Linked DNA regions of Homo sapiens. The protein of the gene in region 2 interacts with the protein of the main gene of each other region in a biochemical or structural test. Each region holds a gene or a part of one and is shown on either strand. Other genes may lie near its edges. The genes, in order: SNTG1, RAB9A, TJP2, PDZRN4, GRID2IP, ARHGEF11 and APBA1.

Region 1 (3,500 bases), on a different chromosome or scaffold from region 2:
TCGGCTCACTGCAACCTCCACCTCCCAGGTTCAAGCAACTCTCCTGCCTCAGCCTCCTGAGTAGCTGGGACTACAGGCACATGCCACCATGCCCAGCTAACTTTTTGCATTTTAGTAGAGACAGGGTTTCCCCATGTTGCCCAAGCTGGTCTTGAACTCCTGAGCTCAGGCAATCTGCCTACCTCCGCCTCCCAAAGTGTTAGGATTACAGGCATGAGCCACCGCGCCAGGGCGAACTGTGTATTTTTAGGAAAGCTACTCATGTAATTAGGGGAAGAAAAGAAAGAAAGAAAAGAAAAGAAGGAAAAGAAAAGAAGAAAAGAAAAGGAAAGAAGGAAGGAAAGAAGGAGGGAAGGAGAGAGAGAGAGAAAGAAGGAAAGAAGAAAGAAAGAGAAAGAAAGAGAGACAGTAAGAAGGAAAGAAGAAAGAAAGAAAGAGAAAGAAAGAAAGAAAGAGAGAGAGAGAAAGAAGGAAGGAAGGAAGGAAGAAAAAGAGAAAGAAAGAAAAGAAAGAAAGAAAGAAGAAAGAAAGAAAGAGAAAAAAGAAAGGGAGGAAGGGCAGGGAGTGCACAGAGGGGAGAAAGGAAAGAAGGAAGGAGAAGGAAGGGAGGGAGGGAGGGAGAAGGAAGGAAGGAAAGAAAACTGCCTCAACAAATCAACTTTGTCTATTCTCTATCTGTACACTAATACAACTTTTATCATAGTAATAACGCAACACATATTTATATATTCTTACTTAGACTTAAATTATTTTCTAACCACTCTCCAAGTAGCTGCATGATCTTTTAAATCCTCTCTTTTAAAAAAAGCTATTTAAACATTAGAACATAATGCAGTTTACTATAGTAGTTAAAAAGGATAATTTTAAAGGAAATAATAAACATTATGTTTAGCTCTATCAAGATATACAAACAATATGTTCTATCTCTTTGTTACAATTTTTGACAAAGATTATGCAATTCATGATCTGCTATTTTGTGTAAAAATATGTCTTGAGATTTTTTTCTATGACAGTTAATGTTCCTTAAAAACACTGATAACTTTTTGATAGATTTCATCTATCCCATCATTTGCTTGTATTCATTGAGTCCACTTTAAAATTTTACATTTAGTTTTTTCCCCCACTTGTTATTGCTATCAGGCATATCACAACAATCATTATTTGAATGGTTTAATAGAAAATTAAATGTTTGCTATATACCAGGTAACCTCAGCACTTGTTATGTGGCTGAGAAAAATGCAGAAAAAGCCACTGCTTTCATTGAGCTTGCATTTTATTAGGTGATATGATGTTAAGTAAATCAATAAAGAAGACAAAAATAGTAAGTAAATAAATGAGACAAAATAATAATATGTAGGAAGGACTGATATTTGCTCAGACTTTTATGCAAATTCTTATTTCCTTTAGTCTAAATTCTGAGCTTTGGAAACCCCATGTGGAAAAATATTTTAATGTATTCAAGATATTAAATCCATGTGTACAAATTGCCTCCTACAAGTCATCTTAACTTATGCGGCCATCAGAAGTGTCTATGAGAGTGCCTGTATATTTACATTCTGACCAAATTAAAATCAAAGACTACTTCTCATTTTAACTTTCTATATACAATTTTCTATAAGCCTTAGTTTACTTGAATTTTTTTAATACTTCAAGTTCTGGGATACATGTGCAGAACGTACAGTTTTGTTACGTAGGTATACATGTACCATGGTGGTTTGCTGCACCTATCCACCCATCATCTAGGTTTTAGGCCCTGCATGTATTAGGTATTTGTCCTAATGATGTCTCTCCCCTTGCCCCCAACCTCCCAACAGGCCCTGGTGTGTGATGTTCTACTTGGGAAAATGTTTACATAGGTTAGTGAGGCCTGGCGATAAGTATTCTCATACATCAAATACAATGTAAATCTACCTTCAATTGTTGTATGTAATCAAGGAAGTCCCCCTCCCCTTAGTAAGTACAATGCTGGTGCTTTATGCTTTGTGGCTTGACATTAGACATATAAAGCCATCCTTCAAGCATTCCTTTTCCCAAAGGAAAATTTCATGTAGCATGAGAACAGAGGAGTGGCTTCTAGATTCGATGCTAATGGATTATTTTCCTGCATGCAGATTACCTTCTGGCCTTCTCCTGTGTCAGGATCACTGGTTGATAAGGAAGCCAGTCAGATAGGTGGGGCAGGTGAGCAAATAAGAAGGGGCATCTTCTACAGCCTAAATCAGAGGGGGAGTCTTCTACAGCCCAGCCCTCTCCTGCCATGAGGTATCACTTCTGATGCAAGCTGTGCAAGTTGTAGACTTCTGCCTCCAGAAAATGGATCCCTCAGGTGAGGCTAATTAAAAGTCAGATTTGAATGTCTGGATCACAGAAGAACTTGCCTGTGACCATTAATCAGGAAAATCCTGTCCCTTCTGATGTGTTCATAATGAAGCTACACCAGTAATAACAAAAATGAAGCAATAAGGTTTATCTGGTACATATAGTTTATATGTATGTGCCAGGTGTTGTCCTAAGTGCTTAGTATATGAATTCAGTTTGTATTTACAGCACCACTATCTGTCAGTTATTGTTATTCCCATTTTAGAGATTTGGAAACTGAGGCAAAAAGCAGTTTAAGTAAATAGCCTAAGGTCACACAGCTAGTAAATATCAGAGCTAAAGATATGAATCTTGCAATGTGTCAAAATTCTGTGCTCTTGCACATGATACTACACTGTCTCTGTCTCTCAGCGTAAATATTGATAATTTGGGAAAAAAGATGGGAACCAGAGAGCCAGCCTGGTACTGATGAGAGAGCAAAGGTTTCAGAAAAAGGAATTTGGCAACAAATGCCACTTCTGTTACTAAAACATTACCCTTTATGAGTGTATTGGGCACTATGAACTTCAGTTCTTCATCTGTGAAATGCAGCTATGGATGCAGAGGGTGCTGTGAAGATTAGGAATTGGTTAACTGATTTGTGAATGCATTTTTGTCTGTTAATTCATATCAGTTACTTCGAGTACCTTCTATGTGCCAAGCACTCCACTAGGTATTAAGGATAAATACAACAGTATAAGAGAGTTGAACTCACAAAAATTCCAGCTGATGAAGGAGTTTAGGAAGGGCATTTTGGAGGAGGCTTTTAATGAACTGAAACCTAAGTGACTGTGAAAGGGCTCCACAGAGGAAGATGTGTCATGGCAGGGGTTGGAGTCCAGCCAGTAGGAGGGGAGGAGCAACCTGGTCCAAGGAATAATGTATAAACTTGCCCAGAGCTACAAAGAAGTATGTGTCCCTTCAACAAGGCAAACAAGTTTGTTACAGCTGTAGTCATCTTGGGTATGAGGTTGGTGTTGGTGTTTGGATGGAACAGATCATAGGAAAAGGCCTTAATAAAGCACATGAACTTTATCTGAGGAACAAAGGACAGCCACTAAAGCATGTCAAGCATAGGGAGGGACTGAGGTTGCCCATTTAAAAATCCTCTTCGAATGCAACGTGAGATGGAGATGAAGGGG
Region 2 (2,438 bases):
GCTACTATTCTACCATTATTCTCTGAAACAGCTGGGAAGGGCTCACTCTTCCCTTTTCTCAGGTCACAGTTGACTGTGAAGCTGGCACTCAAGCCCAAGTCTGACCCCAAAGCCCTTGCTCTGAACCGTTACTCTATGATAAGCCCCTCTCTGCTCATAGTAAGCCCCACCATTTGTTAGAGATGGGTAGGAGACCAAAGTTCGCATGTTGTTGTTGTTGTTGTTTTGGTTTTGTTTTTTTTTTTGAGACAGGATCTCGCTGTCACCCAGGTTGGAGTGCATGGGACCATCTTGGCTTACTGCAGCCTTGAACTCCCAGGCTCAAGCAATCCTCCCACCTCAGCCTCCCAAGTAGCTGAAATCACAGGTGCACACCACCATGCCTTGCTAATTTTTCTATTTTTTTGTAGAGACAGGGTCTCAACCACGTTGCCCAGGCTGGCTTCAAACTCCTGGGCCCAAGCAATCCACCTGTCTTGGCCTCCCAAAGTGCTGGGACTACAGGCGTGAGACACCATGCCCAGCCCACATGTTTCTCTTAACAACTTCAAACAGCCCTTCAGTGCACAGTGATGGTGTTCACTTAAGGCCTCTCTCCTACCAGGGACTTTCTCTACTACTCCCTCCACCTCTCTTCAGACACAGGTGCTGTTAACCAGGAAAGCCAGAGACAGAAACTGACTTACCTGGCTGTGAAATAAAGTATGAACCAACCACTGAGTAAATGGACTTTATTCTCTTCATTAAGAACATTATTTTGAATTTGTTCAAATTAATGTCAGCAGCAATGGAATTTTTAATATAATCTAGCACATTCTATCCACAAGATTCACTTGGGCAGTTCAAACACTTAAGGAACATGAGACTGCTGCTACTTGTGTGTTTTCAGGTAGAATGAAATAAACCTTAAATGAAAATGTGGTACTATATGTGTTCTTTAGAAGTCCTGTGGCAGGATTAAAAACTTTACTACACTACAAGAGCCAGCCTGTGGGGGGTGAGATTTCAGATGCCCGTTGACAGACAGCTACTTCTAGGTGCTGGTGGGAGCACAGTTCCTGGTTAATCCTTCTGCTTACATTTTTATTGTGAAAAATGTAAAACATGTACAAAATTTCTATATAATGAGTACAATACAATGAGCTCCCATGAACTCTAAACCCAGCTTCACAATTATCAACTTATGGCAAATCTTGTTTCCTCCATAACCCCTCCAACTCTCCCTTCTCCCCAGTTATTTCGAATCAGATTATATCATTTAATCTGTACTTTAGTATTAAATGGTTTTTAAGTATACTAAAATGTATATAAGAAGATAACTATTAGAGCAGCACTGTACAAGAGAATTTTATGCAACAATGGAAATGTCCAATATAGCAGCCACTTAGCCGCATGTGACTGTGGAACACTTGACATGAGGCTGATGGAAGTGAAAAACCGCATTTTAAATTTTATTCAATTTTAAATAAATAGCCACATTTAATGAGCCAATTGGAGAGCACAGATCTAGAGCAAATTTGGTCAATAACCTTAATAGGAAAGTAGGTATTATGAATCCCTCCATGGGAAGGCAATAAAGACATGAACAATAATTGTTATATTGACCAGGATGAATTTGTAAAATCACTGCAGTAAACATTATCTGGCTGTCTCCTGGTTATATGCAATGTGAGCAACTATAGTGTAACTGAACACTTACTGTAACATGTAGGAATTCTGCACTTCTAGCCACATGCTCCACTGTTCTGATAAAAACCTTGTAGTGGCTTGTATAGTGAGAAATCAAGTGAATGGGAAATACTATTAAAAAATGATGGGACATACCTTAGTCCCTACCTCTTACTGGTTCTTTCAAATTACTACTACAGGCCAGGCACGATGGCTCACACCTGTAATCCCAGCACTTGGGGAGGCTGAGGCGGGCAGGTCACTTGAGGTCAGGAGTTCGAGACCAGCCTGGCCAACATGGTGAAACCCCGTCTCTACTAAAAATACAAAAAAAAAAAAAAAATTAGCTGGACGTGGTGGCAAGCGCCTGTAGTCCCAGGTACTAGGCTGAGGCAGGAGAATCCCTTGAACCTGGGAGGCGTAGGTTGCCGTGAGCTGAGATTGCACCACTGCACTCCAGCCTAGGTGACAAAGCAAGACTCCATCTCAAAAAACAAAACAAATTAATACTACAGTAATTACTACTATAATTAATATTAATACAATTTAAACTGTCCAACACAAGTGTGTGGCAGTTAAGGTGCATACCTTTTGAGAGACTTTTTCAATTTCAAATGTATTGCTCAATATCCAGACTATTAATGTTAAAGAGGAAACTGCAACAGTCCCAAGCCCCTTACTTTCCTGACATAGGTAACAATGTGCTAAATTGGCTGCTTTAATTCTTTGGCATCTTGCTTCAACAACTTAAAAAGAAAAGATTGAAAACC
Region 3 (3,500 bases), on a different chromosome or scaffold from region 2:
ACTGAGCTCACCAGGAAGTTCCTTCCAAATGATTCATTCCTTTCAAAAACAGAAATGTTTAGTTTTGCTAATTAATTCCCTCAAATAATTTCATCTGCTTTGCCATATATACCTAGGAACAGTCTTCCAAGGACTGAGAGCAGAATGATTGTCTCTCGAAGCCTACATTACTTACTCCTATTCCCATTGTAGAGCTCCACCCAGGGTCTCAGGTGTGCTCAGCTTTAGTAGGCATCAAAGAAACACAACCTAGAACTCGGAACACTTCCTTTAATACTCTGAAAACAAATGACTCTCAACAAATGGAAAAAAATGGCCCCAAGTGGAACATTATTTCCCCCTCAGAAGAACCTAGAAGGTCCTTGAAGCTACATGTCCTGGAAGAGTTAATTCCTACTGATGACTAGAAAGTACTGTTTTCTCTGTTTACCTTCAACTCAAGTGACAAAATCCAAAGTATCTGCAATGTTCTCACGTCTCCACCAAAGCTTTTAATACGATGGCAAAGGCATAACTGGATTTTAGTCACATTCTATTCATTACAGCCATAACTGTTACCTACCAGTAAGAATAACTATTCTAATAACTCTCTCCCACAATGGGTTACAAACATTCCCTCCAAATGCCTGACTTGTCACTAACTCGTGTGTTTAGTACCATAGTTATATAGGGTATCTATAATATAGAGCATACTGTAAAGTTTCCAAAGATGATACCATGTTTTCTCTGTGAACATAATGCATATATTTAATATGGCTGATTAAAGTCTACAATAGAAATAATAATTACCACACTAATTAATTCTGAAGTCCATGTTCACATACACATATAGGTAAAATTTAGTGAACATGTGTACTCAAGAATGTGACATAAGATCCTTGCCATGATTAAAGGTATGATTCGAAATCTTTTGGTCAGCCTAACTTACTAAAACACAAATATTTGATTCATGGAAGATCCATTAAGAGATTCACTTTCAGCCGGGCGCGGTGGCTCACACCTCTAATCCCAGCACTTTGGGAGGCCGAGGCGGGTGGATCACGAGGTCAGGAGATCAAGACCATCCTGGCTAACATGGTGAAACCCCGTCTCTACTAAAAATACAAAAAATTAGCCGGGCGTGGTGGCGGGCGCCTGTAGTCCCAGCTACTGGGGAGGCTGAATGGCGTGAACCCGGGAGGTGGAGCTTGCAGTGAGCCGAGATCGCACCACTGCATTCCAGCCTGGGCGACAGAGGGAGACTCCGTCTCAAAAAAAAAAAAAAAGAAAGAAAAAGAAAAAAGTAACTTACTTTCACCACCACCGCTGTTACTGCACCCCCATACAGTAACTGTAGGAAAACAAAATAGAAACCATAACCACTGATATTCTAATTGAGCTAAAAGGTAAAATAAACATTCATTATAACAAAATGTATCTGACTATGGTCTGCAATATACAATGGTGTGTAAATGGTTAAGGAAAGCTACATTACGTTTTTCAGGTTAAAAAACCTGATTTAACTTTAACCATCTGGCAGAGGCACTAAACAAACATCTGTGCTGATTTTAAATGACTAAAGTACAAGTTACTAATTGAAAGCTTAGGATTTCTCATAAATGGTGTGAACACACACATCACTAGAGAGTCTACTGAAACAGTATTTTCTCTTCTCCTTGATTCATTCGCCTGCCATGAGCATGCATCTCTCTAGGTCAAAGCAGGGATACTTGTTTTCTACCTCAAGGCTTCCTGTTCCTACGAAAATCCTTGTTAAAGCCTATTTTACAGACCAATACAAGCTTCATATTAAAAAAAAAATAAGAAAAAAAAACTCATCCAGTTGGCATTCTTCTGAAAGACTTTGAGAAATTAAATGCATTTACAGGTGAGGCTGTTTGGCTGTCCACATTCTTCGGCAATGAATCATGAGCAAGAGTCACTTGATAATACAGTGATGTCCTTCATCAGTGTCAAAATACTTCCTCCCCTATCACTCTATCATATCAAAAATATCATACCAACAGACCTTTAAAAACTGCAGAATGGCTTGTGGAAGCAGAGAAAGGAATGAGAATTGGGCCAGACGTTAAAACAAACAGCTAGCTCTACAAATACACTGTCTGCAACCACATCTAAGAGATCTGAGTGGATAAGAGCAGGATGCACACGCTTAAGACAGAAAGTCCATCAAATTCAACTTTCCTGGCTATTCTGGGCCATTCTGTGTTTGACTTTCTTGAAGGCGTGGTCAAGGTATACCAGGCTCTCTATAAGTAAGCACCACACTCATATTTTAAGCAGTATTATGCACACCTCAGATGTCAAGGGCTAGCTTTACCATTTTTGCCTTAGCCTCATATTACTCATTCCCAGAGTTGATAATTTTTCTTAAAGCAAACTCACTGCTTTACTTAATATTTATTTTTGCCTCATTCTAAGCAATCTAGCCATGAAATAAATGGATGTGGTAGCTGGTTTTCTGTTTTTATTCCTAACATATAATATTCATGCATCATAATTGAAAAATAGAATATGTATCTCTCTGCACCACCTGTAAGTCTGTCTGTATACCAGACTTTGGAAAGCACTGTTTTGGGATAGCATAAAAGGTAGAGAAAATGCTTTATTAAATGATTAGGTATTTTGGGGGTATGATAGTCCTTACTCTGTCTCCTCTGAGAGCTCACAGGTTATCTAGGATGATGAAGCTTTGGTTGTTTAATGGCCAGCTGGATGATAGAGACACCAATCCCTTTAAAAAACAGAATGGAGCCGTCACTGTTATGGGTAGCCATTGCCCCAGCTTGTGCAGGTCTTCTGGGGCTCTAGCTGTCAGTCACCCAGTTCTAAGAAGTGCTTTTCCTAATCAAATGGAAAAAGTGGAAGCAGACACTCTCCAACTCGGAACTCTGCCTCTCACACTACAATGTATGCAGCATACTAGCTCAACTGCTTTCCTAGGTACCATCCAAAATTAAAACTAGTGGCCGGGCACGGTGGCTCACTTCTGTAATCCCAGCTACTTTGAAGGCTGAAGCAAGAGAACCGCTTGAACCCGGGAGGCAGAGGTTGCAGTGAGCCAAGACCGCACCACCACACTTCAGCCTGGGCAACAGAGCAAGACTCCATCTCCAAAAAAAAAACCAAAAAAACAAAAATAAAATTAAAACTAGCTACTGCAATACTGCATATTGGATTTCCATGCCTGAATTTTTTTTTCCATTGCTATCACACAGCCTTTTCAAAAAGTTTAATAGTAATACCACCTTAGACCCTCCCAAATTCACTTTCTATATGGGCATCTACTAAAAAGGCTGATTGCAAAAATTCCTATGAGGGAGAAACAGGCCCTAAATAGCTTTTTAAACCTTAACAAAGTTCACATAACCATTGATGTGTTTAACCCACTAAATGGGTGTTAAATCTAACCTCTGAGTCTGTGTTTCTGACCCTAACCCTTGGATTTAGGATCAAGACAAAAACTCAGTAAAACACCAGAGAAAACTGTTCTGCTTCCC
Region 4 (2,963 bases), on a different chromosome or scaffold from region 2:
ATGTTGATCAGGCTGTTCTCGAACTCCTGACCTCAAGTGGTCCACCAGCCTCAGCTTCTTAAAGTGCTGGGATTACAGGATCCCACCACCACACCCAGCTAATTTTTGTATTTTTAGTAGAGATGGGGTTTCACCATGTTGACCAGGCTGGCCTCGAACTCCTGACCTCAAGTGCTCCACCAGCCTCAGCCTCCTAAAGTGTTGGGATTGCAGGCATGAGCCACTGCACCTGGCCTCAACATTAATTCTTAACACATCTTAAAAGATGATAATTTTTTTGAAAATCTTGACAGGCTTAGAAACTTGCAGCACAAACATTCTATCACTTTACCATGTTGAATAATGAAATATTCAGCTTGCTAACATCCCATAACAGAAATGTGTATGTGTGTGCACATGTCCACATATTAAATAAATAATTAGATTGCACACTATAGCATCAACATAGTCATATGTGATATACTCATGTGCTCATTATGTGGAGTTTGGCCACTCCACAAACAGAATTTCATGCTCACAAGTAATATCGCTACTGTGGTGACTGTCTTTCAATATAGGTAGGGCAGATTAAAATTTTTATGTATAACTTCAACACTGGCCAAAAATAAAGATATTTTTGGTGGCAGCTGCTGGTTACAAGCAAGAAAGTCCTTGCTCCAGGCTTTTTTTTTCTTAGATACAAAATGTGACCTGATACTGAATTGATAGGAGGATGTTGGAATAAGGAAAGCAGGGAGAAATCCTGTCCAGGTAAAGTGACAACGGTGTCAAACGCTGCCTACTCATCAGAGGTAATACAAATGTTAGGTCTCGTGAGGTAACACTAGATGCCTCTGAGGTTAGATTCTCATTGTGTGGAATTTTTTTCTTCACCATGAGACTAAAAAATGGTGAGAAGTACAGAAACCTTTAAAAGTCCTTTGCCCTTATAAACAATAATACTACATTAGAAATGTCTAGGTAGAAACATTGCCTGTCACTATAATAATTCCATAGGGAAATGATAAATGATAGAGTAGCATTGCATTAGAAACTAGGAATTCTAGGTTTGAGAATAGAAAACTATTTTATTTTCACAGTTGTTCATAGACCAATAACAAGGGAAAGGGGATATTCAATTGAAAAAATAAAATACCTACCCATATGTGAACCTACTTTATGGAAAGTTTCATTTTACACAGTATGTTTGGTCTTATGAATGCCGTTACATTGTGCAACATCTCCCATAGCATAATTTGTCATTATTATGTCATCTGCATGTAAAATAAGAAAAAAATTACTAGTCTTCTTGTATTTTTCAGCTCATGACAAGATATTAGAAAAATATAATTATAAATAACACGATATATAAATTCAAATGCCCAGTATCAATAACATTCTTTGAGAGTTATATGGTGTAGTATAAAGACATTGCCATATTAAATACTATTGTCACCTTATAAGTCACAGCCTAGGGATGCAGCAAGCTTCCCATTGTTCGTTACAGTTACTTATTATAATTTTTTAATCAATAAGACATTTAAGATAAATCTCAGTATGTTTTCAACAAATGAAGGAACATGTTCCAGGGAAAGAAAGATTGAGAGTCATAGAAAAGCTGATACATGGTTATGTTCTCTCCTCTTGATATTGTTACTTTTTATCCTGCCACTACTTTTGTGGAACAAAATAACAATTATCTAGAGAGACCTTTTTAGACTTCTTTTAGAATATCTTTTGTCACCCGTTCTATCCTTCTTTAGCACTAGCTGTTGGCTTGATTATATTTAATTGTGTAATTACATCTTCTAGAGGGATGGAGCTATATCTATACCTATCTATCTATCTATATATATATATAGTGAATAAACTTAGGCATAAGGCAGATATAACCTAGAAACTGCCTTATAGATTATCATATGATGACTGATAGAGGTGAAAGTAACTTTACCATATTCACAGAGAAAGAACTACACATGCATCTTATTAGGACAGTTACAGTTAATTGTTTTACATGAAAGCCAAAAATTACCAGAGTCTCTCTCTCTCTCTCTCTCTCTCTCTCTCTCTCTCTCTCTCACACACACACACACACACACACACACACACTACATAAACATACATGCATGCCTATATACATATATGTGACATAAGTGTCAAAATTTTTTTGATATTATGCCCATGTCTGGCAATCAGTGCTGTTCAAATTTTCATGGGACTGAATTTTTATTCTCAATAGACTAAAATTTATCTTTGAAAAAAAATCCCTGGTTAAGAGTAGAAAAATCTTATACAACCCCAATGAGTCCTAAAACATTGTTGTTGCTTTTGAGAAACATGATTTAGAGTGCACTGAGGTCAGAGCACATGTATTCAGGAATATGGCATCCTGGACATATAAGAAATTCTGGCACTGGAAGATGAAGCTTTGCCTCCATCTGTCATTAATAACCTGAATCTGCCACTAATAACCTGAATCCTTTTGGAATTGAGCATCCTCACCTATAGATAGCAATGTCCTAGGCTCCAGTACATAATGTTAACTTAGTCCTAAAACTCTGTGATGTTTGGCTTACCCATTGTCAGCATATTACTAAGCCAGTGAAGTTTCCTCTGTACTTAAGGGGAAAAACATAAGGTGATTGTGGCTTCTGAACATCAGGTCTCCATATTGCTGAAGACTATTTAGACATTCTGTCTTATTCTTTTGCATATTATCACCTCAGAAATTCATACAGTCACTTTGTTTATACACCTTCAACCCCGAGTTTCCCAAGTAAGAGAAAACCTAAAGAATCACTTATTTGAATGCATTCTGTCTTATTTATATCCATGTGAATATCATAGCCATATTCAAGCGGGTTTTGTTTTCTTCATTTCATTGTATAAAAAGCTGCCATGAGCTAATTTCCTTTATTTCTAAAATTGTGATGGACCCTAAATTAGAGCAACTGTCTAGGAGATGCAACTTTGCCAGGAAACAT
Region 5 (3,989 bases), on a different chromosome or scaffold from region 2:
CCCATCTCTACTAAGAATACAGAAAAAAAAAATAGCTGGCCATGGTGGGGTACGCCTGTAATCCCAGCTACGCGGGAGGCTGAGGCAGGAGAATCACTTGAACCCAGGAGGTGGAGGTTGCAGTGAGCCGAGATCACACCACTGCACTCCAGCCTGGGTGACAGAGCGAGACTCTGCCTCAAAAAAAAAAAAAAAAAAGTCTATGAGCTTAAGTGTCCCAGCCGCCAAGCAAATACTGAGTTTCCAGGCTTCATGTCCACAGGGGTCCGATAGCCAGGCAGGGGTAGGGACTGAGTGTCTTGGCTCCGGACTATTTCCTAGTCGCACACAGGATCACTTTTTGTTCCATTCAAGTATTAGTGAAATAAAGGCCTTAGGACCCCATCTGAAAGCCCTGGAGGACAGGAGTGAAGGTGAATGGCATGGGAGGTTGCTGTACTGGGACCTAGTCAGTGGCCTGGGGTAGCTGTAACCATACTAGGCAGCTTCTTCTTTTATAACCATGTCACGTCCCAGGTTTCTTGGAATTGCCTGGATCTGTCCAGTAAATGGCAGGTTCCTGCAAATCAGGGGTTGCTTGGGATTCAGGCCTGAGACCGACTCTATCCTCCCTCTTTCCATCCCAGCCCTGGGTCTCTAAATGGTGCCTCCATCTTGGCTTGTGGCCACACCCTACTTCCTGCAGGTGACTCAGGCCTTGGGTTCTTCTTGTGGCTAGAGGTCTGATCCATTCCAGGCTCCTCATTCTTAATCTTCAGGACCACGCTAATATTCCACCTGCAGTCTATCACAGCCTGGTTTGTGCCAAAGTCAAGAGGAAATGCCTTTGGCAGATTGGTGAAGCCAAACTAGGGCCTCCTGCAGCCAACAAGCCAGCCAGGCCGCTGTGCAAGGGCAGGTCTAATCCTGGTTTTGTGGGGGCTTAGAACAGGCGGAATTCTTTTACATTTTTTTGGAGGTGGGGAATGGCGGGGAGGGGAATGGAGTCTCACTCTGTCACTCAGGCTGCAGTGCAGTAGCATGATCTCAGCTCACTGCAACCTCCGTCTCCCAAGCTCAAGTAATCCTCCCACCTCAACACCCTTGAGTATCTGGCACCACAGGCGCGCGCCACCACACCTGGCTGGTTTTTTTTTTTTTTATATTTTTGATAGTGATGGGATTTCACCACATTGCCCAGGCTGGTCTCAAACTCCTGAGTTCAAGTCATCAGCCCTCCTCAGCCTCCCAAAGTGCTGGGATTACAGGCGTGAGCCACCTCACCCCACTGGCTCTTTTACACTTGATCTTAGATGAAGGGCCAAGAAGCGATATCTGTGGCTCTTTTTATTTTATCTTTTTATTTTAGAGATGCGGTCTCACTCCGTTACCCAGGCTGGAATGCAGTGGTGCAGTCATGGCTCACTGCAGCCTCAAACTCCCAGGCTGAAGCGATCTTCCTGCCTCAGTCTCCTGAGTATCTGGGACTATAAGGCATGCACCACCATGCCAAGCTAGTTTTTGATTTTTTTTGTAGAGATGGTGTCTCATTACGTTGCCCAGGCTGGCCTTGAACTCAGGGTCTCAAGTGATCCTCCCACCTTGGTCTCCTAAAATGCTAGGATTACATCTAGCACCTGGCCTGCAGTTAAGTTCTAATGGGGAGGATAGACAGAGAAAGGGGCACGTGGGAACATTCTGGTGTCAATTATTCTATAGTCTACATTATATTTTTATCTATATCCTATTATTTTATATATTGATCAAGAGGGTGGTTATTCAAGGGTGCATGTATATGGAAAATTTATTGAGCTGCACACTTAATGCACTTTACACCTATAGTACCTTAATAAAAAAGAAACACAAGTGAATAAAAATTGCAAAATTAGGCCGGGCGCAGTGGCTCATGCCTGTAATCCCAGCACTTTGGGAGGCAGAGGTGGGCAGATCACTTGAGGTCAGGAGTTTGAGACCAGACTGACCAACATGGTGAAACCCCGTCTCTACTAAAAATACCAAAAAAAAAAAAAAAAAAAAAATTAGCTGGGTGTGGTGGCAAACGCCTGTAATCTCAATTACTGGAAGACTGAGGCAGGAGAATCACTTGAACTTGGGAGGCAGAGGTTGTACTGAGCCAAGACCTGGCCACTGCACTCCAGCTTGGGTGACAGAGCGAGACTCTGTCTCAAAAAAAAAAAATGCAAAATTGTTTGCAAGGTTTTGAAGTTGAGCATTCCCATATTTCTGTTAAATCTGACCCCAGAAGTTTCCTTACCTCTGGCCCTGGGAGAGCGGCGCCCGGCCCACTCCCTGCCCACATTATGAGCCCCCTCCTTCCCGCCCCCACCTCCCACCCCCGCGCCTTACCTTGCGGCTGAACTCTTGGGCCTTGCGCCTGCGCTCTCGGTGCACCGCGTCCGGGCGCTTGCGGCCGGCCAGGCGAAGCAGCTCACGGCCCAGAGCTAGGCCGCGGCCGCACCGCGGGGCCCGCAAGACTGTGGTCGGGGCCGCGGGGCCGGATCCTGGGCCGGGGCCACCGTCGGGAGCCGGGAGCACGCCCAGACTGGGCGGCACACGTGGGCAGCGCCGTGCCAGGCGCACGAGGCGCTCGCGGCTCAGACCGCCCACCGCCAGCCCCTCCACCTCCAGGATCTGGTCTCCTGGCCGCAGTCCTCCGGCATGCGCGCTGCTCCCCTTGGCCACCTCCAGGACGAAGCAGGGGCCAGAGCCACCTAGCCGGAAGCCAAAGTCCTCTGGCCAGCCCTGGTTCGTGGCCGGCGTGGCAGTGGTGGCCATGCACCTAGAACTGGAGACAGAACAGGGATTTCCTTGCTGCTCTGTCCATGGCTCCAAAGCCACTCAAAGGCCCAGGGCCACTGAAGGCCTCTACTTATCTCTGCCTCCTCCCTCTGACTCCGTCTTTGTCTCAATTCCCTTCCATCTATGTTTTTTTGTTTTGTTTTGTTTTTGTTTTTTTAAGACAGAGTTTCGCTCTTGTTGCCCAGGCTGGAGTGCAATGGCGTGATCTCAGCTCACCGCAACCTCCGCTTACTGGGTTCAAATGATTCTCCTGCCTCAGCCTCCTGAGAAGCTGGGATTACAGGCATGTGCCACCAAGCCTGGCTAATTTTGTATTTTTAGTAGAGACGGGGTTTCTCCATGTTGGTCAGGCTGGTCTCGAACTCCTGACCTTAGGTGATCTGCCTGCCTTGGCCTCCCAAAATGCTGGGATTACAGGCGTGAGCCACCGTGCCTGGCTTGCCTAATTGTTGTATTTTTAGTAGAGACAGGGTTTCACTATGTTACCCAGGCTGGTCTTGAACTCCTGGCCTCAGGTGATCTGCCTGCTTGGCCTCTCAAAGTGCTAGGATTACAGGCATGAACCATCATGCCTGGCTTGTTTTTTTGTTTTTTGTTTGTTTGTTTGTTTGTTTTTACTAAAAACAAAATTGGGGAGGGGGTGTAAAAGAAAAATGGCCCTTCCTTAAAGTCTTCTTTTGAGTGCCTTGGATTTTTAACCAATGCGGCCACATCCTTTTCCATGGGCCCCTCCTGCTTCCACAGGTCTGTTTTACTGTCTTACATGTACACTTGGCTTCCATGGGCCCTCCTCACTCCCTACACTTTAATCCCTCTTCTTACCCCTCTCCATCTACCAAAATTCCCTTTCGGGATCTGGCATGAATCACAAACTTACGGAAGTCCAGAATGTTGGAGCAGAATGGTCCCTCAGAGACCATTCATATCTTTGGGCATTTATTTTATTTTATTTTATTTTTGAGACAGAGTCTTGTTCTGTCACCCAGGCTGGAGTGCAGTGGTGTGATCTCGGCTCACTGCAACCTCTGACTCCTGGGTTCAAGCGATTCTCCTGCCTCAGCCTCCCGAATAGCTGGGATTACAGGTGTCCACCACCATGCGCGGCTACTTTTTGTATTTTTAGTAGAGACAGGGTTTCACCATATTGGCCAGGCTGGTCTCCAACTCCTGACCTCAGGTGATCCACCTGC
Region 6 (3,500 bases), on a different chromosome or scaffold from region 2:
TCCCAGAAGATCTCCACCTTACCTCCAGTTCTACCCCATCCCCTGCTCTCTCAGGCTGAGTTCCAACATCTAGTCTTTCTTAGGTGGGGCGGCCTGCCTTGTCCATCTAGGGACAGGGTGACAATAGCAGGGTGTGTGTCTTCTGGGGCTCCATTGTGCCACCCTATCTGGTCTCTGTCTCCTACCTCTAAGACTCTCCAAGCCCTGACCAGTGTTCTGCTCCTAAGGGTACCCACAAAGTGTGAGGGGTTGACTGCTGCAGCCTCTGCCTCCTACCTTGAACTCTGCTGCCAGGGGGTTGCTGGCCCTCTCCAGGGCGGTGGCATCCAGGCGTTTCTGGTAGCCCTCTAAACGGTGGCGGTTCTCTGTTTGTTTTACCGCTTCATTCACATACTTGAGAATCTCCCGGCACTGGTCCCGGGCCCGGCACAGCTTCTCATGCTCAGAGGTGCCACCTACCAAAATGGACAGAAGAGATGGTTGGGGCTCCTGCCTGAGAAGTCCAACATGGCGCCAGCTGTTATCTGCCTATTCATCCATGGCAGCTGGCTTGCTTCAAACCAGCAGGCGTGGGTGGAGGGGAGCCACCCTTGCCTCACATGAGGACCCCAAGTGGTAAGGGTAACTTTTACTGAGCATCTTCAGGTCTCAGACAGATCACTGCTTTGAAGACGCTGATAGCTCCTGGGAATCCCTGCCTCTACTACAACCAGCTCTACAGATGCAAGGGACAGAGACTGTGGTAAATGGCCACAATTATGCCTCTAGAAAGCCTGTTCAAATCAGATTGGGGTTCCTAACACCTCTCTGTCCTGACTCCAATGTCTGAAATTTGGGGGTAGTGAAAGATGCCCAGGATCCCAGGGAGAGTGATAACCTGAGGCTAGACCCTCTTGTTCAGTCTGGTCCCCTGCCCCTCTAGTGTAACCACATAGGCTGTGTCTTTTGTGCACTGCAGGGGGCATGAATGGGGATAAAATCCAGCCCCATGCAACCAGAGGGACCCAGGTGCCCTTGAGTGCCAGCCTGTGTTGGGCACCGGATGCTTTCCTTGGATTTGCACAAAGGCCCACACAGGTGGCCTTCGATGGTGGCCCCTACTCCTCCCACTATTAAACACCTTATATTTTCCAAAGGACATTTACAATCATTTTCTTCTCTGAAACACCCCACAACAGAAAAAGGACGAAGACACCAAAGACCACAAGGCACAGTGACTTGCTAAGGTCACAAAGCAGTGTCAGAATGAGGGTCTGGCACGAGGCCCACTGCCTGTGATGCCAGCCCCTCCCCAGGTGCTACCCTCTGTGTGCTTGATGATGCTCTCCAGCAGCAGCGGGTACTTGGTGAGCCGCTGCATCTCAGAGATGATGAGGTCTCTCAGCTGCAGCCGCCGACACTGAGGGTGGCTCTCAGCCTCCTAGACAGCAGGAGACACAGAAGGGAGGAGATGTCAGCGTGGCTGGGAGCTGGCTTATGGGCTCAGGGCCAAGATGGGTGTGAACATGACAAACAGGTCCTAACGCCAGATGGATCACTCAGAAATGGCAGTGGAAGCTTCTTCCTTAAAGATGTAGAGAAGGGTGTGTGGTGGCAGGGAGACACCAATCCAAAGGGATATGGTCAAAACAGAAGGGCAGGCATATTGCTGCCATTCTATAGACAAGGAAACTGAGATCCATCTCAGGACACACAGGTGCTGGTGGGTGAGCCAGGCCTCTGACTGCTAATCCAGGATTCTTTCCAACAAACAGAAGTCTCTTTGTCTAGAGTGAGTCAGTGCTTTTGAGGAGCGTGTGTCGAAGGGTAGAGGGAGTTGCTGTAGACAGGGATGATGTGGCCAGAAGGAGAGAAGTTCAGGAGATCCTTGGTGACCTTGATGGAGATGAAGGAAGGCCAAGGCATGGCCAAGGACGCACCTGCATGAAGAGCTGGAATCGACTCTCCTTGCGTTGCTTGGTCTTGATTAGCTCTAGGGCTATTGACTGATAGGAACAGAACTGTGCAGCCACTTGCTGGAGTTCCTCTCGGGCAGGGCCATCAAACTGAAGAGGCAGAATGGACACGGGGCCAGGCATCAAACCCCTGCCTGGGACCAGACCCCTGCCTTTGCCAAATTCTCTGGCCTTGGGTAATGAGACCCTGCCTCCCCCAATCTCCTCCTTGCCAAGAGGGAGAAGTTTGGAGCCATACCCGGGCCAGCATGAGGTCACTGATCTCTTTGATGATGGGGCCTTCCTCCCGGAGCTTCTTCATGGCTTCACACCAGGAATCTGGGGCAGGAAGAGAACAAATAGAAATGCCTGGGGTTGAGCTCAACTGCCAGAACCTTTCTGACAGAGAGAAGTGAATCTCTGACAGCAGTGCCATGGGAAGGGTCTGGAAACCATTGTACTTTCGGGGTGAACTCCAGTGCTGGTTTCAGGCTGTCCACAGATCTTTTTCTCACCAGGGATTGGTGGGAGGTTACCTACTCAGGGAGGTCCTGGCAGTGGGGCCAAAGTGGAACAGGAAGCTGAAGGGCAGCAGAAGAGGAGTCTGGAGGGGCACAGGCTCCTTACTGTGAATCTCTATGAGTTCAGGCAGGTTCGGGAAGAGCCGGGCCAGCTCCTCCCGGGGCATCAGGTTCTCCTTCTTCATTCGCTGGTAGAAGATCAGGTCCAGGACCCGGAGTGTGCGCAGGTGGGAAGCTTCAGTCACAAACAGCTCTGAGCGGTGGTTGTGACAAGGAGGGTAGAAAGCCAGGGAGAAAACGGATCAGCAAGTATCTAGAGTCCCTGACCTGGTTCCCACACCACTCTATTTTTGGGGGAACTGAAGTGCCAGTTTCAGATCATACAGCAACTTTTCTCTTACTCCAAGGGCCAGAACTGAGGGGAACCTTATAGCAACAGGCAATGTGGACCTGCTCCAGCACACAGGGGCCCCCCACCCTATTTACCTCTTTCCCACCCTTGTGTCTTAGGCATTCTGGACCTATTCCCACACGTGTGAGCGGAGCTGGGGGCAGTGGAGCACGTTCTCACCATTGATGACCTCTTGCCGGTCAATCTCCCGCTGGGTTAGCCCAGCCACCACATCCTTGCCCACTGTATGCTGCCAATTTTGGGCATCTGGCTCTGGCTCCAGGTCAGACAGCTGGCCCAGATCATCCTCTAGGAGGTGGGGAAGGAGGGTATCTGTGCAGAACCCCAAACTGGGGGACTCAATGCTCCTGGGGGAAAACAGGCAGCTCAGCTTCATTTAGGAGGAAGAACTCACACAGAGGGTTTGGCCCTCCCTCTCCTGCCCGACCTGCTTGCCCCATGCACATGGGAAACCAGTGGGCCCAGAAGAGGAGACAGCCACCCAACCAGCCCCTTGCAGGTGAGAGGAGCAGCTGGGTGTGGATGGGACACAGAGACACCAAACAGAGGCACCACCGTGCCCATCACTTACCTGCGGCCCATTTTGGGAGTGAATGGAGGGGTTGGGTTCTCAAGAGACCTGTGGAGGGAATG
Region 7 (3,500 bases), on a different chromosome or scaffold from region 2:
AACATTCTCTGATCCACAGCACATTCAACTCCCACCCTTTTCATGCCACTTTCACATACCCTATTCTTTCTACTTGGCTACTCCTCCCTATAAAACAACTTCCCCCTTGTACCTAACTCTAGAGACCCTTAAAGATCTTAAGGTCAGAGGTTCTCATATGGCAACAGTCCTTCCTCCCTAAAACGAAACAGTATCTTTCTCCCCTTTGCAATAATCCTTTCCAGTGAAGTCTCTCCTTCCTCAAGCATGGCTTGTTTTTTATTTGGCATTAGAAATACAAATTCTCGGGCCCCACTCCATACTTTCTGAATCAGAAACTGGGGGGGGGGGGGGCGGGGGGTGGAGGGCGATGTACCCAATAATGCATTTCTCACAAGGTCTCCAGGCACAGTGTGGGAAGCACTGATTTGAGGCCATCCTGCTAAGAATCTGATGAGTGCATTCAACACTTTAATTCTCTCCCGCTGGCGTTTGACAGTTTAGGTGCAAGCTGTTTCTGAGGCTTACGGTGGAAAAGTTCTTAGCGTCCCCACAGACTACTTCCCGTAAAGTCACTACCCAAGGGCACACAAGGCCATGGGGCGCCATCTTCCCTCCCACCGCGTGGGGCCGAGGAAGCCCAAACCCGCACCTACTTACATCTCCGTCCATCGGCCTCTGGTCGTCACAGTCCCTGGTGGGGCTAATGTCCTGGCGCATGACCCAGATGGGCTCTTTGGGCTCGTCGGGGGTGTAAGGCGAACGGATGGTCCTGGTTTTCACCTCCTCGATGGCCTCCTTGATGTCCTTGATGGCCAGCGAGATGGCATCGCGCTTCTCCTTGCTGTACCGCTGCCCCGCCTCGCCGCCGCCCGCGGGGCCCACCGCCCGCTGCTGCCCCGCCGGCGCCTGCAGCCCGGGGCTGTCGGGGCGACCCCCGGCCGGGGTAGGGGGACGCTCCAGGTCCTGCTCGGCCTCAGGCATGTCCTCGGCTGCCTTGTCGAGGCTCTGCGAGCTCATGCTCTGCTTCACCTCGGCCACTATCTGGTCGATGTCCTCCTCCTGCTCGTAGCTGTCCATGCGCGGGTAGGGCGCGAACTCGGCCTCCTTCTCGGGGCTGTCGGACTCGCCGTCGGAGCGCTCGTCGTAATGGTGCAGCCGCGCGCCCAGGGCCTCCTGGCGGTACGCGGCCGCCTCGTCGCGCTCCTGCTCGTAGAGCCGCAGGCCGTCGCGTGCGTCCAGCTCGGGCGCGTCCCCTATCTCCTCGTACACGTGCTCCTGGAGGCCGCCGTAGTCGGCATAGGGCTCGGAGTAGGGCTCGTCCTCACCGCGGTGGAAGAGCCGGTGCGTGTAGACGTAGCCTGAGTAGGCCGCATTCATGGCTTCCTCGTGCTCCAGCGAGTGGAAGTGCAGGTGGTTGGGCAGCGCGCGGCGGTGCGTGGCCTCGGCGTGCTCGGCCTCTGCCTGCTCCGTGTACTCCTCGGCCTCGGGCCGGTACTGCACAGCATAGGCGCTCTCGTCCTCGGGGTCCTGCGCGCGCTCCGCATCGTAGCCGTCGCGGGCCGCGGCGATCACGTCGCCCTCGGCGGTGTCCGTGTGGTTGTGGAAGCCGCTCTCCGTGCTGGCTGAGCGCGCCAGGCATTCCCCGCGCTCCTCTTCCTCCTGGCCGAGCTGGGCGCGGAGGTCCTCGAGGGCTCGCCCGCGCTGGTGGCGGCCCACATAGTGCTGCTGCTGCGGCGGCTGCTGCTGTTCCTCTTCCACCTCGGGGTGCTCCAGGTCGGCCTCCACCGACTCGTTCACCTCCCCACCTGCCGCCTCGTCGGTCACCTCCACCTCCGCAGACCCCTCCAAGTGGTTCATGGTGGGAGTCGGAACGGCTAGGAGAGAAGCTGGGCCCGGCTCACTGCGCTCTCATTTTGCTCCACTGGGCTGGAAAAACAAGAAGGGGAGAGGCTGTCACGTGGTGCAAACAGTCGTTATGAGCTGAGTATTCAGATAACCATAAAAACAACTGCTATTGATTCCTTTTAGTTCTGGGTCAATTAAAAAAAGACTGCAAATTTAAGTTCAATCTGACAGCACATACATAGCACGCATCATAATTTGTAATTACATATCTACTTGTTTAATTGCTTATTGCCTTTCTCCGTTCCCACCCCTCACACTGAGCGCCTCAGGAACGTTTTGTTCTCCACCACGCATACGATTCAGGTCCCATTTCTGATGCATCTGAATAAAGAGTACTACTAAATTGAATGGGCCAACTGACACATTTTCCATCTGCTAACAGATAAATCTCTCCAAATTAAACTAGGATCCTACAACTTTAGAAATCACTCTTTACATCAATTTCAAAGAAACATAATCTTGAACACCTTTTGAAGCCATTCTGAGAGAGGCTATCAGCCAGCAGTGGGGTCCCGCCCCGGTTCTGTCATTACTGACTTTGTGACCTCAGGCAAGTGGCTTAATTTTCTGGACCTCCACGGTGTGACTGGACTCATTTCCTACATGCAGGATGTTAACAGCTATTATATAGGGTAAAAAAGACTCGGTGGTCAAGTAAGTTTGGAAAATGCTGAGTTACAGTTGACTTTTCATTGTTAATATCCAGAAGGAGGAAGATGCAGGACACAGGGTTTCCCTAACTTGTTTGACCAGGAGACACTTTTTCCTAGAGGCCAATGTTACATAGCAGCTGGTTTCTAATAGTTAGGCTTCCCTATTGCGCACTCAGCATCCAGGATACAACCAACCACGGAAGACAATATTAGGGGAAAATATCCAACACAATACAACAATAAAAAATAATGCAAGTAAAAATACAGTATAACAACAATTTATATAGCATTTATATTGTATTAGGTATTATGAGAAATCTAGAGATGATTTACAGTATATGGGAGGATGTGCATAGATCATATGCAAATACTATACCATTTTATAATGGATTTTTATATCCACTGGGGTCCTGAAACCAACCCCCATGGATACCAAGGGAGGACTATATTCACTTTCCCCATGTAACCTGAATCTAAAATTCTAAGATTTTATGAGTTGCCATTATAGCTAGAACTGGATAACAGGTGTAATTTTTTAAAAATATGGGTAGGTCTCTTTCTATTTTCAGAGAAACTTGTAGCTCGAGAGAAAGATTTGGTTTCAGTCTCTCTCAATTCTTCTTATCACAAAATAGCTTTATGGTATAATCTGTGCAGTATATAGAAATAGACACAAAGAATGTAAACAACCACAACAAAACAGGCAGGACCCCTATGATTTTGAGATCCCTATGGTAAATAGGCTCAACAGTATGTGTAAACTTGCTATTATGTTCTTTTGGAGAGCCTTTCTTACAAATGGACACAATGGATGGGAAGTGAACTCTTAAATATGATAACAGACAACCCCAGGAGGACCAGGGACATCTGATGGACTCTCTAGTAGTGAGATGCATTATATTCTACTCAACTCCCCATCACAACCACAGCAATTTCCTTCAAGCATTGATGACCATCCCA

What was found.
Region 1: the proteins of RAB9A (region 2) and SNTG1 interact in a test that uses a peptide from one of them, tested with the Homo sapiens proteins (one large-scale study listed by IntAct).
Region 3: the proteins of RAB9A (region 2) and TJP2 interact in a test that uses a peptide from one of them, tested with the Homo sapiens proteins (one large-scale study listed by IntAct).
Region 4: the proteins of RAB9A (region 2) and PDZRN4 interact in a test that uses a peptide from one of them, tested with the Homo sapiens proteins (one large-scale study listed by IntAct).
Region 5: the proteins of RAB9A (region 2) and GRID2IP interact in a test that uses a peptide from one of them, tested with the Homo sapiens proteins (one large-scale study listed by IntAct).
Region 6: the proteins of RAB9A (region 2) and ARHGEF11 interact in a test that uses a peptide from one of them, tested with the Homo sapiens proteins (one large-scale study listed by IntAct).
Region 7: the proteins of RAB9A (region 2) and APBA1 interact in a test that uses a peptide from one of them, tested with the Homo sapiens proteins (one large-scale study listed by IntAct).

The regions. Positions count from the first base shown.
Region 1 is NC_000008.11:50,659,907-50,663,406, forward strand, and holds part of SNTG1 (gamma-1-syntrophin), read left to right. Parts: intron 1-3,500. UniProt on the Homo sapiens protein: Adapter protein that binds to and probably organizes the subcellular localization of a variety of proteins. May link various receptors to the actin cytoskeleton and the dystrophin glycoprotein complex.
Region 2 is NC_000023.11:13,706,128-13,708,565, reverse strand, and holds part of RAB9A (ras-related protein Rab-9A), read right to left. Parts: intron 1-2,438. UniProt on the Homo sapiens protein: The small GTPases Rab are key regulators of intracellular membrane trafficking, from the formation of transport vesicles to their fusion with membranes.
Region 3 is NC_000009.12:69,177,277-69,180,776, reverse strand, and holds part of TJP2 (tight junction protein 2), read right to left. Parts: intron 2,735-3,500; exon of another isoform or gene 2,648-2,734; intron 1-2,647. UniProt on the Homo sapiens protein: Plays a role in tight junctions and adherens junctions. Acts as a positive regulator of RANKL-induced osteoclast differentiation, potentially via mediating downstream transcriptional activity.
Region 4 is NC_000012.12:41,569,320-41,572,282, forward strand, and holds part of PDZRN4 (PDZ domain-containing RING finger protein 4), read left to right. Parts: intron 1-2,963.
Region 5 is NC_000007.14:6,548,662-6,552,650, forward strand, and holds the start of GRID2IP (delphilin), read right to left. Parts: upstream 2,801-3,989; 5' UTR 2,776-2,800; coding exon 2,347-2,775; intron 1-2,346.
Region 6 is NC_000001.11:156,944,743-156,948,242, forward strand, and holds part of ARHGEF11 (rho guanine nucleotide exchange factor 11), read right to left. Parts: intron 3,487-3,500; coding exon 3,439-3,486; intron 3,215-3,438; coding exon 3,027-3,214; intron 2,709-3,026; coding exon 2,562-2,708; intron 2,274-2,561; coding exon 2,194-2,273; intron 2,046-2,193; coding exon 1,920-2,045; intron 1,421-1,919; coding exon 1,303-1,420; intron 456-1,302; coding exon 277-455; intron 1-276. UniProt on the Homo sapiens protein: May play a role in the regulation of RhoA GTPase by guanine nucleotide-binding alpha-12 (GNA12) and alpha-13 (GNA13). Acts as guanine nucleotide exchange factor (GEF) for RhoA GTPase and may act as GTPase-activating protein (GAP) for GNA12 and GNA13.
Region 7 is NC_000009.12:69,515,372-69,518,871, forward strand, and holds part of APBA1 (amyloid-beta A4 precursor protein-binding family A member 1), read right to left. Parts: intron 1,909-3,500; 5' UTR 1,840-1,908; coding exon 640-1,839; intron 1-639. UniProt on the Homo sapiens protein: Putative function in synaptic vesicle exocytosis by binding to Munc18-1, an essential component of the synaptic vesicle exocytotic machinery. May modulate processing of the amyloid-beta precursor protein (APP) and hence formation of APP-beta.